2 separate regions of the Homo sapiens genome follow, and region 1 is linked to region 2. Evidence: fine-mapped expression QTL. Tissue or cell type: whole blood. Region 2 holds a variant in brackets; the other region holds the start of a gene. All regions are shown on one strand. Distances are from middle to middle.

Region 1 (2,680 bases), 94 kb after region 2:
CGAGGCGGGCAGATCATCTGATGTCGGGAGTTCAAGACCAGCCTGACCAACATGGAGAAACCCCGTCCCTACTAAAAATACAAAATTACCCTGGTGTGGTGGTGCATGCCTGTAATCCCAGCTACTCGGGAGGCTGAGGCAGGAGAAACGCTTGAACCCGGGAGGCAGAGGTTGCGGTGAGCCGAGCTCGCGCCATTGTACTCCAGCCTGGGCAACGAGTGTGAAACTCCATTTCAAAAAATAAAAATTAAAAAAAAAATAAAACGAGTTCCCTAATTTATTTACAAATTTACCTTAGTTTGGATTTACTTAGAGGAAAAGAAGGAAATAATTTTTCTCAAGATCTACAAAATATAATGTTTCTATCAAAGATAGACCTTGATTCACCTGTTACCAATTTTAGTAAGACTGGAATAAAAAAGAAAAAAGGCTGGAAAAAAAACAAACAAAAAAACAAAAAACAGAAAACATGCTGAGCCTTTGGGCGACTGCTAATCCTACATCCCTGTGGTTGTTCCCTGCATCGGCCTATTGGCTGGGTCTGAACCCTGAGGGCCTTTGCTCCAGCCTCTGCCGGAGCACGGGGAAGGTGTTCGGGGCTTAAGGGCAGGTTTTTAGGGCACGTGTTTGGGGTAAGTGTGCTGGGCACACAGGCAGGTGTGTGGGCACGGAGGAGGTGTGCAGGTAGGTGTGTGGGATGCGCAGGCAGGTGTGCACGGCAGGTGCACGGGCAGGTATGGGGCACGGGCATGTATGCAGGACGCAGAGCAGGTGTGTGAAGCAGGTGTGCAGGCACAAGACGTGTGTGTGGGGCATGGGCAAGTGTGCCGGGAATGTGTGACGGCAGACGTGTGGGGTGCGAGGTTGTGTGGGGGCACACGGACAGGTGTGCAGGCAGGTGTGGGGCACGGGGAGGTGTGCAGACCAGGTGTGTGGGGTGCGGGAGCGAGGCAGGTGCGCGCGGCAGGTGCGCGGGGGCGAGTCAGGAGCGCGGGGCACGTGTGTGGGGTGTGGGGCAGGTGTGCGGGGGCGGGGCAGGTGTGCAGGGCAGGCGTGCAGGGGCAAGGCAGGTGCGTAAGAGCGAGGCAGATGCGCAGGTGCGCGGACCAGGTGTGTGAGGTGCGGGGGCAGGTGCGCGGGGGCGGGGCAGGTGCGCAGGAGCGAGGCGGGAGCGAGGCAGGTGTGCGGGCGCGGGGAAGGAGCGCGGGGCAGGCGGGCGGGGATGAGGCAGGTGCGCCGTTCCTCCACCCCACGACCAGGTGAGGGCGAACGGGGAACTGCCTGAGCTCCGAGCCCGGAAGCTTCAAAATCAGAACGAGGAAGGTCGGTGAGGAGGCCACGCTCGCGGGACGGGGGCAGGAAGCGCAGCCGGAGCTGCAGATCTCGGCCGCGCCCCGCGGGCTCCAATCCCGAGCGTCCCCCGCACGCGCAGCCGCGCTCGCCCGCGGGGCCTAAGGGCTGCTCAGGGCGGAGACCCCGTAGGTGAGCCCGAGAGGCGGTGCGGGGCTGCGAACCCCGGAGCGAGAGAGGACTGGAGGGCGGGGTGAGGGGACGCGAGGACCCAGCCTGCACGGCGGGGCACCCTCCCCGCTGGCACCTACCACGTGGGCCTGCATGGCCTGGCTCTCCTCGGACGCCCCGCCCACGCCGGCTCCGCTCATCCCGCCGCTTCGGCCTACGGCGCCTGCGCGGGCGGCACCAGGAGGCGGGTCTGAGGCCAGGCAATCTCCGATTGGTGCAGAGCGGCGTCCATAGGGGTGGGCCTCCCGGAGGGGCGTGGAAGGGGCGGGGCTGCTCGGCGCGGGGCGGGGCCGGGAGGTCGCCGCCTCAGTCTTCCGCCCTGGGCCACGCCCCGGTCCCGGGTCACCTCTCGGAGCCGCCTCCTTGGCCCGTGGAAGCCTCCTGCTCTCCCCTAGGGCGCGCGTCACAATCTCTGGTCCCCCGTAGACGCCGCCGCGGGGAAGGCGGGGCTGTGCGAGGGCGCCGCGCTGCAAACCCAAGCCAGGCGGCCTGGAGTTGCTGTAAAGCCTCAAGCAAGGCTGATATGTAAAAGGTCGTTGCATTTCACCCGGGCTGTGGGCTGTGCTACTTGACCGGGGAGGACGAGGGGACTGCAGGGCGTCCTTTCAGACAGACGCGGTAGGGAGAGCAGGGCGTGCAGGACACTTGACGGCCCCAGGAGAGGGGTGAGGCCCTGACCCCACCGGGGTGTCATCCAGGAGGAAGGGTGCCCGGGGCGAGGTCCCCCAGGAGAAGTGCCCAGGCCTGAGGCCTTGACCCCACTGAGATGTCCCCCCAGGAGGAGGGGTGCCCGGGGTTAGCTCCCCTAGGAGGAGGGGTACCCGGGAGTGAGGCCCTGACCCCACCGCGAGGTCCCCCAGGAGGAGGGGTGCCCAGGAGTGAGGCCCTGACCCCACCAGGAGGTCCTCCAGGAGGAGGGGTGCCCAGGAGTGAGGCCCTCACCCCACCGTGAGGTCCCCCAGAAGGAGGGGTGCCCAGGAGTGAGACCCTGACCCCACCAGGAGGTCCCCCAGGAGGAGGGGTGCCCGGGAGTGAGGCCCTGACCCCACCGCGAGGTCCCCCAGGAGGAGGGGTGCCCAGGAGTGAGGCCCTGACCCCACCAGGAGGTCCCCCAGGAGGAGGGGTGCCCGGGAGTGAGGCCCTGACCCCACCGCGAGGT
Region 2 (2,680 bases):
ATGGACACAGGGAGGGAAACATCACACACTGGGACCTGTTGGAGGGTGGGGGGCAAGGGGAGGGAGGGCATTAGGACAAACACCTAATGCATGCGGGGCTTAAAACCTACATGGCGGGTTGATAGGTGCAGCAAACCACCATGGCACATGTAAACCTATGTAACAAATCTTCATGTTCAGCACATGTATCCCAGAACTTAAAGTAAAATTAAAAAAAAAAACTACTCACCTCAGCCCCCCGCAGCCAGCCTGGACTCCCCACGCTTGGGGAAAAAGGCTGCATTTGGAGCCCGAGGCACCCATCACCTGCCCACCCCAGGCAAGGGTCGTTCACACTCAGGGGCTGAGGACATCCCCGATGCAGCCACCTCAGTCCACGGGAGCTGGAGGTCCTGGCCTTGGCCCCTCAGACATGGCACCGCAGGGCCTCGTGCTTTGCAAGTTTCTAACAAATGTTGGCTTTATGGGTATTTTAAGACAGAAGAGAGACCGGAATCCATCCCCCCCACACCCATGCAGGCCACCCTCTCCAGCTGCCTCCTGCCCCCAGGGCAGCGGCCACCACCCCACAGCCTGGTCTGTGGTGCTGTTGTGGACGGCTGTGGCACCTGTCCCCATGCCCACCATCGGCTGGGGTCTCATCCCAGGCCACACAGTCATTGCACAGCAGGGCGGGTTGTCCAGGTGGCAGAGCCCGGGATCCCCAAGCCCTTCCACGGCCAAGGGCCCCACACTCACCAGCTTCACGCAGATGACGAAGGGTGGCCGGGCGGCTCGGAAGTGCAGGATGGGGATTCGGGGCTTGGGTCTTTCCTGAGAGTGACAGTGGCCATCAGTCCTGCCCGAGCCTGGAGCTTGTCCCCGGAGAGACGCCCTCAGGGTGCACGCAGCCACCAAGTTGGCTCACACAGGAGCCAGGGCTTGGGCAGCAGATAACGTGCCAGGGTCACAGACTGCGGCAGGTGTTCAGAGCAGGAACCCGGCTCCCGCCACCCCCGCCTGACACCCGACTGCAGAACTGACCAGGGTGGGCTACCCCAAGGCC[T/C]AGACCCACGAGGGACAGCGGGGTTCTCCCCCCAAGAATGGGGGCTGGGCTCCCTGGAGGCCCCGAGGAGCCAGCACGGCCCAGGTGGACTCTGCCAAGGGGGAAGGCTCGGAGCAGCTGTCCCTCAGCCCCGGAGCAGGTGGTTGACCCCAAGGGTGACACCATGCGGCCCTGCACACCTGAGAGTCCTCGTGGCAATAGAAGCCTTTCCTGATCTTGTTCTCGTCCACGTCACAGAATGCCACCACCTGGGGACAAGCACAGAAGGGCAGCTCTGGACAGGCCGGGGCCAGGGCCTGTGCTGTGGGACAGTACGGGGGCAGGGCAGGCAGTGTTGGAGGGTGGCAGGATGCTCACCTTGCGCTGGCTGCCGGCAGTCAAGCTGCGGTACAGCCGGCGCCCCTGCTTGCCAGCGTTCCAGATGGTGAAGGCCGCCCAGCGGGGCAGGGCCTGCTCTTCCAGGAAGCGGACGCGGTGGGTCCAGATGGTCGTCCTGCGGTGGAGAAGAGGGTGATAGGCAGGCCGGAGGCCCCACAGATGCACACAGATGCTGACATACAGGGACATGATGTGTGCTCAGCTCACGTTGCCAGTGGAGTGGACACCTGGCCCAATGCCTAAGAGAGACTGGCTGTCCTACAGTCAGGCCACCTGCCCCAGCTGGACGTAGCCACATGCCTAGGTGGGGATCCACCCCTTCCATTAGACCCCAACAGGTGGGGACAGATGAGAAGCTGTCACTTAAGAATCTAGAAGGTTCTGGAAGGCAGAATTTCTGTAGGACGCAGAGGACTGGACTTGACCCAAGTCCAGTTTCCCAGAGAAACCTTTGTCCATAAGGACACATGCAACCATCCCATAAAATCCCAGCGTTCACACTTGGACACGACCTTCTGCCTCAGGGTCGCTGCCCCGAACCCTTCCACTCCCCTGGGAACCTGGTCTCTGTTCTCCCTCTGCTGTGACAAGTCGACCCCAGGCTGCTGTCCCGGGGGGAGCAGGCTCCTTCCCATGACCTGCTGCTCTGCCCAGCGCCCAGCCCCATCGCTGCCCGGGCCCTTCCCAGCCCCGCCCTCTCTCCTCCCACCGCAGCCCCTCCCCACGTGCCCCATCGCTGTCTGCCTGTGTGTGCCTCTCCCTCAACCCTGCTCCTGGAGCTGCCCGGGCTGAGCCCGTCTCAAAGCCCCAGGAGCTGGACGGGCCAGAAGCTAGAGGGGCAGGGGATGCAGAGGCCAACGGGGCCAGAACGGCGTGGGATGTGTCCCAGATGCTGTCCTCCCCAATGGCCGCGATGTAGCCACGCTGAAGCCCGGTACCCCACAGACCCTGCCCTGGCCGAGTCCTGGGATGCCCTCTGCTGTGTCAAGGGAGCTGTGTCCGTGGGAGTCTCCTCCGGGGTGGGGTCTGGGCCAGACACAACCAACACTGGCTGGTGACGGGCCTCCCCTGAGCAGGGCCCTCGTGGGTTCAGCCTCGGGATCGGGGCAGGATTTCGCTGTTCTACGATTCTGCTGCTGCCTCCGCCTCCCGGGATAAACTTGTGACTCCCCCCCAACCCTGTGGCACCCCCTGTTTGTAGCAGAACCCCCACAGGCAATGGGATGGGGGGGATGGGGGGACACGGGGTCCCCTCTG

Evidence for each region. PIP is the estimated chance that this variant, and not a neighbour inherited with it, causes the effect.
Region 1: it holds the start of QTGAL, and the variant in region 2 is fine-mapped to the expression of QTGAL in whole blood (TOPMed, PIP above 0.99).

Annotation. Positions count from the first base shown.
Region 1 is chr17:83,050,136-83,052,815 of GRCh38, forward strand. QTGAL (queuosine-tRNA galactosyltransferase) reads right to left here and starts at 1,635. Exons shown (of 13, transcript NM_001009905.3): 1 at 1,602-1,635. The coding sequence starts at 1,616. It overlaps LOC124904094, which reads left to right and starts at 1,052. Exons shown (of 4, transcript XR_007065967.1): 1 at 1,052-1,110.
Region 2 is chr17:82,955,957-82,958,636 of GRCh38, forward strand. QTGAL (queuosine-tRNA galactosyltransferase) reads right to left here. Exons shown (of 13, transcript NM_001009905.3): 9 at 1,403-1,538; 10 at 1,225-1,293; 11 at 739-813. Among named protein-coding and RNA genes, the nearest start is that of QTGAL, 94 kb to the right of the region's middle. The variant T/C (reference allele first, on the strand shown) is at 1,046.